3 linked regions of the Homo sapiens genome follow. The protein of the gene in region 3 purifies or fractionates together with the protein of the main gene of each other region. This does not show direct contact. Each region holds a gene or a part of one and is shown on either strand. Other genes may lie near its edges.

Region 1 (3,655 bases), on a different chromosome or scaffold from region 3:
TTTGAAGTCATTTGGGATGGAAGGTGGGCCATTTGAAGAGCTGTAGGGTCAGGCCCTCATTCTGCCAGTCCATTTGGGAAAAATCTTCCATGTCACTAAGCTCTTGTAACAATAGCTACAAAAGTTGCTTGTTAGTTGGGAACTGAAATCTGCCTGTATAGAGATTTGCCCTCAGATGGATTTCCAGGTAAAGACAGACCCCCATCCCCATTGAGCAGGGAAGGAGCGGCCCCTCCCTGGCAGTGCTGTGTCCTCTGATGGCGTGCAGCACTTCAGAGTTACTCTGTTAGGCAGCATGGCTCTCCCTTTGCATGGGAGTGAGTGTCCCACAACCAGCACTGTCTCTGCCTGCGCCTTTCCTCCCAGCCCCATGGCCGTGTGCTGAGTGCACCGGCCCTGTTCTGCCTTTGGACTGAGGAGGCGTGTTCCTCTTCCTATGTCTCCCTGACTGTAGGAGCGATCTCTCTTTGAGTCGGCATGGAAGAAGGAGAAGGACATCGTTTCCAAGGAGATAGAGAAGCTCCGCACGTCCATCCAGACCCTGTGCAAGAGCGCACTTCCCCTGGGGAAGATCATGGACTACATCCAGGAAGACGTGGATGCCATGCAGAATGAGCTGCAGATGTGGCACAGCGAGAACAGGCAGCACGCCGAGGCCCTGCAGCAGGAGCAGAGGTGGGGGGTAGTAATGGGGAGGGGGCCCTGCAGCAGGAGCAGAGGTGGGGGGTAGTAATGGGGAGGGGGCCCTGCAGCAGGAGCAGAGGTGGGGGGTAGTAATGGGGAGGGGGCCCTGCAGCAGGAGCAGAGGTGAGGGGTAGTAATGGGGAGGGGGCCCTGCAGCAGGAGCAGAGGTGAGGGGTAGTAATGGGGAGGGGGCCCTGCAGCAGGAGCAGAGGTGGGGTGTAGTAATGGGGAGGGGGCCCTGCAGCAGGAGCTGAGGTGGGGTGTAGTAATGGGGAGGGGGCCCTGCAGCAGGAGCAGAGGTGAGGGGAAGTAATGGGGAGGGGGCCCTGCAGCAGGAGCAGAGGTGAGGGGAAGTAATGGGGAGGGGGGCCTGCAGCAGGAGCAGAGGTGAGGGGAAGTAATGGGGAGGGGGCCCTGCAGCAGGAGCAGAGGTGAGGGGAAGATAATGGGGAGGGGCCCTGCAGCAGGAGAGAGGTGGGGGGGAGCAGGGGGATAATGGGAGGAGGCCTGCAGCAGGAGCAGAGGTTAAGGGTAGCAGAGGCAGGGAGTAATGGGGAGGGGGCCCTGCAGCAGGAGCACAGGTAGGGGATAGCGGAGTGGGGGGAGTAATGGGGGAGGAGGCCCTGCAGCAGGAACAGGTTGGGGTGGGGCAGGAGGGTAATGGGGAGGGGGCCCTGCAGCAGGAGCAGAGGTAGGGGTGTAGCGGAGTGGGGCAGTAATGGGGAAGAGGCCCTGCGGCAGGAACATAGGTGGGGGGTAGTGGAGGGGGGATCCCCAAAGTCAATGGGGACTTTGCTGCATACCTCCTTGTCCCAGAGGTTGTTCTGTATGTAATTTAAGGACTTCAAGATTATCATTGAAGAAATATTAACTGCTGCTTTTATAAATCTCATGTTTGACTTCACTTTTGGTTGTAGCAGGGGTTGTGAAAATAAGAAATAAATATTATCCTTTTCTTTGGATGAAACGAATAATTTACTTCTGTTGTCTTTCAATGTCTTAATTAAGAAGCCAACACACAATGAGATGAGAGAGTGATGAGCCGCTGGTTTTGTTCTCCCTCAGGATCACAGACTGTGCCGTGGAGCCCTTAAAGGCTGAGCTCGCGGAGCTGGAGCAGCTGATCAAAGACCAGCAAGACAAGATCTGTGCTGTGAAGGCCAACATCCTCAAGAATGAAGAAAAAATCCAGAAAATGGTATATAGTATCAATTTGACTTCGAGAAGGTGAACACTCAAAAGTTTCAGAGATGAAAAGTCACCTCAGTTTAAAAGCAAAAAGGAAGATAGAAAATCATTACTCTTTTAAGTTCCAGTTTGCTAAGAAAATGAACAGTTTACAATGTTATTATCCAGCTAATTTTCAGAGCTTTAAAACTGTAAGCATGTTAAGTGTATTAAAAAAACCATGTTTTCTTACCTCCTTCCAGATGGAATACTGGCTAGTTATAAATAGCGCTTCCAAACACCTCTGTGAAAAGTTTTTTTGAAAGCCTGTTCTTTGTGTTTCTGCTGTAACCTGTTTAGTTCTGTACCAGAACTCTCTAGCAGGTAAGTGGTGTGGGCATACCAAGGGAACAGTAGTCCTTTATTTTGGTTTAGTGGAAAGACTTTCAGAGGTCAGTGCCGAATGAAGGATGACTGTGTACTTTTTGATAGGCACTTGATAAGTAGAATGAGGCCTGAAAATGAATACATTATATTTTTAGTTAATTTCCAATGGAAAGGGCTAACCTCAGCCTGTCTCCATATCAGGTACCTATCAACTGGATTGTTTTCATTTTTGTTTTTTGACCTCTTTGTAATTGCATGTACTTCTCTATGTAATTTTCCTCTTGATCTCTACTATCGTTTGCTTGTGTTTCTAGTCCTTAAAGTTCATAAATTTAAAAAGGAGATTTCAGGATGGCCTTTATGGACGTTGTCTGGACATACATCCTCACTTTCTTCCGCAGTTTACCCTGGTTTTCCTCAGACAGAGGCTAGCGCAGCCCCCCGGAGTCCTTGTTCTCCTTAAGAGGGTCTCGCTCTGCAAAGCATTGGCGCCATGGCTTTTCCTTTGCATGGGTGTGCATACCGAGAGACAGGCAGCTTAGGAAAAACAACATAAGGAAGACTTAAAAGGATGCACTGATTTACGACGTTTTTTGATGTTAGCCATTTTTTTGGAAATTGTTTTTTAAAGCAAAAGTTTTTTAAAAACATGGTTTATAGTTTTTCACTTACATATACTATTGTAAATACTTAGCAGAGTCTTAAGTTACTGTATAAAACATTTCATTGTGTTTGAAGACATACTTATGGGTCTTGAGGTCTGGGTCCTAATACTTTTAAATAGTGTATTTATTATGTAAACTGAGGAGTGCCATTTAAAGTGTGAGGATTGCCTGAAAAGGTTTTGTTTCTTTCTTTTTTTTTTTTTTTTGAGATGGAGTCTTACTCTGTCGCCCAGGCTGGAGTGCAGTGGCGCAATCTCGGCTCACTGCAACCACCGCCTCCCGAGTTCAAGTGATTCTCCTGCCTCAGCCTCCTGAGTAACTGGGACTACAGGCGCACGCCACCATGCCCAGCTAATTTTTGTATTTTCAGTAGAGATGGGGTTTCACCGTGTTGACCAGGATGGTCTCCACCTCCTGACCTCGTGATCCGCCTGCCTCGGCCTCCCAAAGTGCTGGGATTACAGGCATGAGCCACTGCACCCGGCCAGGTTTTGTTTCTTTAAGGATTAGCACAAATGGCACCGTTGGGTTTTTCTTCATACAATTTCCAAAATAAATTCTGTACTCAGGTTGTTATATGATTTTCTGAGCTGAATAAGTTCAGGAGCAGATTATTAAGATCTGCCATTCTGAAACGCTGGTCTTTTTCTCCTTCCTATAGTGCACCATAAAATTCTGTTTGATCAGATTATATTACATACATTTTGGGGGAGTGGAGGGACATGAGTTAAGTAGCCCTTCATGTATTTATA
Region 2 (3,655 bases), on a different chromosome or scaffold from region 3:
ACACAATATTATTTTTTAAACTGGCATAACAAAGTACATATTTAAATATTTCCCACTCTTTGAATCAATAGTTTGAATGTTAAAAACCTCTAAATTATAGTTAAAAAGCCTACCCTTCTCAGCTGATTTATAAGAAAAACAGTACGCTGATTATCAGACATTTTTGTACAATGAATCTCTCTTCAAACAAGCAACAAATAATTTGTTTTATATATTAATACTATTTTGTTAAGTAGGTTTCTTGAAGAGCTATTTTTCTCTTGCTCAGTTTTTCCCCTAAAATGAGCATGTACTTACCACCATCAGTCATGCTGCTGCCCTTTTCTTCCATTTCTTGTTTTACCTTTTCTAATTCTTCCATAACCTTTCATGAAAACAAGTTTTCATGAGCATTACATTTTAATAAACTTTCACAATTTTTGAATTATGTGTTAAGAAAATGTAATTTAGATATTAGCCACACATATAGAAAAATAAAGATATTAGGAATATTTTGGACATAATTCAAATAATATAAAGTATGCAGATATACAAAGCTTTTCAGTTTTTCAGAATGCTCCTAATGTTAAACTTCACCAAATGGCTGTCACATCTGTTTTCTCATGTTGCAATATACTAAACACAATCAAAGTTGTTTTAGTCACTAGACACTCAAACCTCGCAATTATCTCATCGCATATACTTTGAAATTCTCTAATAACTGGTTATTAATTAAAATAGTATAAACATCCTGAAGAGATTTTAGATTTCTAAAGCTTTTCTGGGTATCTTTCTTAATATTATAGTTCTATAAGACATTATGTCACTTTTTCCTCTATAGGACACTAAAAAATGTTTATATCATATGGCTATATATAAGAATATTCTTATTGCTTTATCCAAATCATGAACTCCGAACTCCAAGGAGGCATACTTTGCTGTCACACTTGTTCCTATCTGCACTCTATCTGGCGATTATACTACTATAACCTCTATTATTAGCAAAATTCCAAACCAGCATTAATATAAGTAGAAAATACTATCTTTAAGAAATTGAAAATTTTTTACATGATCTACAACTAAGCTATAATTATTGTGACTTAGTAGGCTTTATTTTTATCATACTGGTGAGTAAAACTTTCCCTGGGAATAAAGTGCTCATCCAAGTAAAGCAAATTAATTTTTTCAGGCATCTGAAATGTTACAACTGGGGATAACTATCTACTCCAAAAGAAGTAAATGGTTCCCTGGACTCCCTTCAAGTGTTAATTTACCTAACATAAGTGAACACTTTACTTCTACATACTGTTTTATTTGCTTAGAAGCACCACAGGATTACAGTCTAAATATTTCTGATGTTATATTTTTAGTGTTTTAAAATAACTTTATTCCTCAAATAATCTCTATAAAAGAGGTTTAATTCTTTCCTGTCAAAACAGTAAAGTTTGTTCCAATTATACTGGATTGTAACCAAAGATCATCTTGGATTTTAGTCCCAAATAAACTACTGACCTTTTTTCAAGGTTTTTTCCTCCTTTGGCTCTTCAGTGAAAAATGGGAATATATATCAGGTCCTACCTCTCTTGCAAGATCATAAAAATAAATGCAACTATTTATTTTTATGCAAATATTCTAAAGGAGGAGGTTATAAGCCACTCCCAATTGTGGACAGAGAAATACACCCAGGATCACACACAAATTATCAATAACAGTCACTAAAAATAAACCTTATATCTTGCAGACTAACGTTAAAATTTGTTATAGATTCCTTAAGTCAGTGCTTTACTATTCATCCCCATGTTAATAATAATTATTATGTAAAAAATGTTGAGGAAAATTATAAGTGTGCTAATATTATGAGCAGGTTTTATGTTGAATTTAATACAGAAACTTCAGGCATCCTGTGGAAACAAGAAATGTATCAATTATTGATTCAGTCATAGGAAAATTAGGGATTATCTCCTAAAGAAAATGATTTAAAGGCACAGGAAGCAACTGAAATTAGCAGTGTTAAACCATTTGTAGGTTCTCAATGGCTGGGGCCCAGCTGACAGGTGAGAAGCAGGGCAAGAGCATCAGTGTGTACCTCAGAGAGGAGTCTGGTTCTTTCCGTCACTCCTCCATTTCCCTGCTGGTATCGCTCCTTTGCCTGAGAGGAAAAACATTTTGTTTAATGGCAAATTCAAAGCAGCAGCAGATTAAATACGACTGACCTCTTTGTGTTTGCAATTTCTGCAGGTCATTTTATGACAACCCTGCTCCTTGTTTGTGAATACATTTGTGAAAGTGACATTTAACTGTAGCTGTTTTATGTCCCTAATAGGCAGCATGTATTTAACTAAGTACTACAAAATGATGAACTACCTTAACCTTCACAAACTGACTGTGTACCTCGCATGGGCATGGTTCACAATAAAAACTGTCCTTGGTCATTCCTAAACAGTTTAGGAGAGGGGCTCTTGGTCAATCTAATTTGCATGCTCCGCAGAGAAAGTCCGTTCTAAAACCAAAAATCAATCAAAGTAGAGCATGAAGCTCAATGATGAATAAGGATTAACATCCCGTAAGACAGTACACTCAACTGGAGTATGTCAGAAACTAACAATCAATTATATAATATTAATATTAGACAAATACATGGTGGCTTTGATCAGAGAGTTTTACATCATTTTGATAGTTAAAATATTCATAAGTAATTGTGTATATGAAGGAATAATACATTTAACAAATAACATCAAAAAGTGTAGATTTCTATTTAGTCTTTGAGGACTTCTGAAAGTATAGAAGTATCTCAAATTTACTTCTACTTTTTTCTCTTTCTCAACTTTGTCTGCTGAAGACAAAAAATATGCCTTCAACTGATGTTTGCAACTGTCCTTACTAGCCTTCTTTAACATCAGAAAATAGGGGGCACAAATCCCAAAGGAAAGCTTTTAGATCCCTACTGCTGGGACAAAGAACTGGTGCTTTCAAAGTCTAGTGATTTTATTTTTTGGTTAAAATTCTAAAACTTTGAAAGAATGAAAAATTTGTCTCATTTTATTAATTAAACTGCTTGTCTCTGAATGTATCTTGCTTTCACATTCCTTATTATGTGGTTGTAAGCCAGAATGGCAAGGACTGTCTTTTTCCTTTGACACATGTAAATGCATACTATTCTTCTTCCTCCTACGCCAATGGTAAATTAACAACAGACTTATAGAAGCAAAACCAGGTGTCCTGATACTCTGTTCCTGTTCTAAGCTATGTTCCCCCAACAGCATATGCCTTCATTTACTTAAATCAAATGAAGACGTGCATTTAAAGACTTCCAGGAGAAAACAACTTCTATTACATGTGAAATGGAAATAAGTTCACTCGGCTCTCTTGGCTTCCTAAAGTGGGCAGAAAATTGATGTTTTGCTGTTCATGAAAAGCATTTCATGATTCTCAAATGAACAGTATTGTGTCAAGTTTAGGGTTTAGGGTTGTTAACTTGAATAAATCCTTGGAAATCATTCTTAAATTACCTCACTCAGCTGGGCTTGAGCTGCACGATATTCTTGAACCAAATTCTCAAGCTGATTGTTGATGTACTTTTCTCGGCTGCTGATCTTTTCCAAAGTCCTAGTAATTTCATTATGGAGTTTGTCCAAAAATCCCTAGAAATTCCATGGAATTTGCAGATAGAAGAACT
Region 3 (3,655 bases):
GACTGTTTTTAAAGTTCTTTGATATTGGAAAATGCCCCTGGTCACTGAGAATCCCATGAGGTCGACATCAAAGGTCTCAAAATGATCTACTTGTCTCCAAACACAACATCTATAATTCAGCCTCTAGATCAGGGGCTCATAAGGACCTGGAAGGCTCATTACACGTGGTACTCTATGGAAAAAATGTCAGTGCTATGGAAGAGAACCCTGATAGAACATCATTAAAGTCTGGGAGAATTGCACCATTGAAGATGCCATCATTGTTATAGAAAAAGCTGCAAAAGCTATCAAGCACAAATTAATAAATTCCTGCTGGAGAAAATTGTGTCCAGATGTTGTGCATGACTTCATGGGATTTATGACAGAGCCAATTAAGGAAGTCATAAAAGAGATTGTGTATGTGGCAAAAAGGTGGGGGGTGAAAGGTTTCAAGATATGGATGTTGGAGAAATCCAAGAGCTGAGAGACACCACACCAGAGGAATTAACAGAAGACAAATTGGTAGAGATGAGTGCCTCTAAAGCAGTGCCAGACGATGAGGGAGAAGATGTAGAAGAGCCAGTGCCAGAAAACAAACTGACATTAGAACATCTGGCAGAAGAATTCCAGTTATTCAAGACTGCTTTTGACTTCATTTATGACATGGACCCTTCTATGATATGGGCACTGAAACCAAAGCAAATGGTGGAAGAAGGATTGGTACCACATAGAAACATTTTTAGAGCAATGAAAAAGCAAAAACGTCAGACAGAAATTACCACGTATTTCCATAAAATTACATCCACTATGCCTGCTTCTCCTGCCTCCCCTTCCACTTCCTCCACCTCTTCTGCTTCTGCCACCCCTGAGACGTCAATACCAACTCCTCTTCCTTCGTCTCCTCCTCAACCTACTCAATGTTAAGATGATGAGGATGAAGAATTTTATGGTAATCCACTTCCACTTAATGCATAGTAAATATATTTTGTTTTCCTTATAATTTTCTTAATACTATTTTCTTTCCTCTAGCTTACTTTATTGCAAGAATATAGTATATAATACACATAACATACAGAATATGTATCAATCGACTGTTTATGTTACCCATAAGGTTTCCAGTCAACAGTAGGTTATTAGTAGTTAAGCTTTTGGTGGAGTCAAAAGTCATATATGAATTTTTTACTACGTGGGGGGTTAGCACCCCTAACTCCAGCATTGGTAAGGGTCAACTCTATTTAGAAGTAATTCAGGTATTATAATTATAATGTTTATATTATAATACATAAATTATTAAGGATTAAATAATTTAATAATAATATAACAGTAACTATAATAAACACTATTAACTAAATTTTTATATGCCTCTCTCTATATATATAAAATATTTAATGTTCCTCTTTTAAAAAGGCACACAGCAGAAAAAAATTGTATACTGACCATTCAGCTCAGGGCAATTTTAATAGGAAATAACCTCATACATTTTAATTTTGGACCTACATGTTCAAGTTCTTCCTTGATTAACAGCAGAAAACAATATGTCCGGCAGAGGGCATCCCTCCATTGCTGCTCACAATGGAGGTTTGGAGATATAATTTTCTTTCACCTTTATGGGCAGGTCACCAGAATCTGGAACCCCTAGTCTATGTGAACGTCTACTGCCACTTTCCTAATGCCAACTGCCAGGATTCACAAGAATTTCCTGATCCTCAATTCCCTGTGATCCATCTGTCAGCTGTTAGACACTTGTGATACTGTATTTTAACTTCTATCAACCCCTTTCCAACTGCATGTGGCAATCTCCTTTAGGCTCTATTCTCTGGTCTTCTAACTTGATTTTTCTTCTCTGTGAAGAATCAAGTCTAGAATAATTTCCTAGCTCCTTTCTGGTGGTTGTGATTCTCCAGAGTGAAACAGGTTGTTACAGAATCTCGTCTTTAAAAAAACTACAATGACAAGAGAATGAAAAAACCAGCCACAGACTGGGATAAACTATTTGCAAAAGTAATACCTGATAAAAGACTGTTATTCAAAATACACAGAATACTTGAAACTCAACAATAAGAGAACAAACAACCCAATTAAAAAAATAAGCCAAAATCCTTAGCAGACACCTCCTCAAAGAAGATATACAGATGGCAAATAAGTATATATAAAGATGCTCCACCTCACATAATCTTGGGAAACGCAAACTAAAACTACAAAGTGATTCCACTACACACTTATTAGGATGACCAAAATCCAGAGAACAGATGCTGGTGAGAATGTGGACCAACAGAAACTCTCATTCATTGTTGGTAAGAATGCAAAATGGTACAGCTGCTTAGGAAGATTTGGTGGTTTCTTACAAAATAAAACATATCATTACCACATGATCCAGCAATCTTACTCCTTGGTATTTACCCAAATGAGTTGAAAGTGTAGTATGTTCATACAAAAACCTAAGCATGGATGCTTATAGCAGCCTTTTCCTAACTGCTAAAAGTTGGAAGCAACCAAGATGTTCTTCAGCAGGTGAATGGATAAATAAACCCTGGTATATCCAGATAATGAAGTATTATTTGACACTAAAAAGAAATGAGCTATCAAATCATTAAAAGACATGGCGCATATCACTAAGTAAAAGAAGCCAATCTGAAAAGGCTCCACACTATGTGATTCTAACTATATGACATTCTGGAAAAGGGAAAACTATGGAGGTAGTCAAAAGATTGGTGGTTGCCAGAGGTTATGAGGTAGGGAGAGATGAACAGATTACAGAGGATTTTGCTGGGAATGAAACTATACTATATGATGCCATAATATAGTAAGTACATGTCATTACACATTTGTTAAACTCCCTAAAATGTACAACACCGAGAATGAACTTTAATGTAAACTACGGCTTTTGGTAAATAATGATGTGCCAGTGTAGGCTAATCCGTTGTAACAATGTACCACTCTGATGTGGGATTTTGATGGTGGAAAAGGCTATGAGAGTGTGGGGATAGGGGATATATGAGAACTCTTTACTTCCTGGTAAATTTTGCTATGAGCCTAAAACTGCTCTAAAAATAACATCTATATAAAGACATTTTTTAAAAAATTAAAGGAATGAAAACCTTACAAAGTCCTTATTTCAGAAGACAAAAAAAAAAAGTCAATTCCTTCACCAGGACAACAGGATTTAACTACTGTAGACAGCCACTTACTCTCTTGAATAGAAAAATAATAAGAGGTGAGTGTCTAGGCTTTAAACTGCTTATTCATCATCTTGAACTAAGGAAAATAAGTCCTATGGAAAATGCATTTAAAGAAGGGGATGGATAGTGAAATACAAGGTCAGTAGGCAAACCCATTCCAATGTTTGGGTTGAAAGGGGCCATGAAAGACCTGTAACTGGGAGAACATGAGTGGGTTGTGGTTGCATGTCTGCATTAGGAACTATGTATTTCAGAGATAAGGAGTAAAGATCTGTTATCATCTGTTATCTGCTCCTGTATCTTAAGTCTAGTTGGTTTGGGAGCTTTTCTATATAATATAAATATATTATATAAGCCACACATATAAATTCTCCAGTAGGGACATTTAAAAACAAAAAAAGGTGAAAATAATGTGATAATAAATTTTACTTAACCCGATACATCCAAAATATTATCATTTCAACATGTAATCAATGTATAAAATTATTGATGGCATA

What was found.
Region 1: the proteins of NME8 (region 3) and TRAF3IP1 purify together in Homo sapiens (affinity purification with mass spectrometry, with the first as the bait; one large-scale study listed by BioGRID). This does not show direct contact.
Region 2: the proteins of NME8 (region 3) and IFT57 purify together in Homo sapiens (affinity purification with mass spectrometry, with the first as the bait; one large-scale study listed by BioGRID). This does not show direct contact.

What each region holds. Positions count from the first base shown.
Region 1 is NC_000002.12:238,397,005-238,400,659, forward strand, and holds part of TRAF3IP1 (TRAF3-interacting protein 1), read left to right. Parts: intron 1-454; coding exon 455-675; intron 676-1,749; coding exon 1,750-1,915; 3' UTR 1,916-3,655.
Region 2 is NC_000003.12:108,163,366-108,167,020, forward strand, and holds part of IFT57 (intraflagellar transport protein 57 homolog), read right to left. Parts: intron 3,621-3,655; coding exon 3,489-3,620; intron 2,129-3,488; coding exon 2,066-2,128; intron 365-2,065; coding exon 298-364; intron 1-297. UniProt on the Homo sapiens protein: Required for the formation of cilia. Plays an indirect role in sonic hedgehog signaling, cilia being required for all activity of the hedgehog pathway.
Region 3 is NC_000007.14:37,851,569-37,855,223, reverse strand, and holds part of NME8 (thioredoxin domain-containing protein 3), read right to left. Parts: intron 1-3,655. UniProt on the Homo sapiens protein: Probably required during the final stages of sperm tail maturation in the testis and/or epididymis, where extensive disulfide bonding of fibrous sheath (FS) proteins occurs.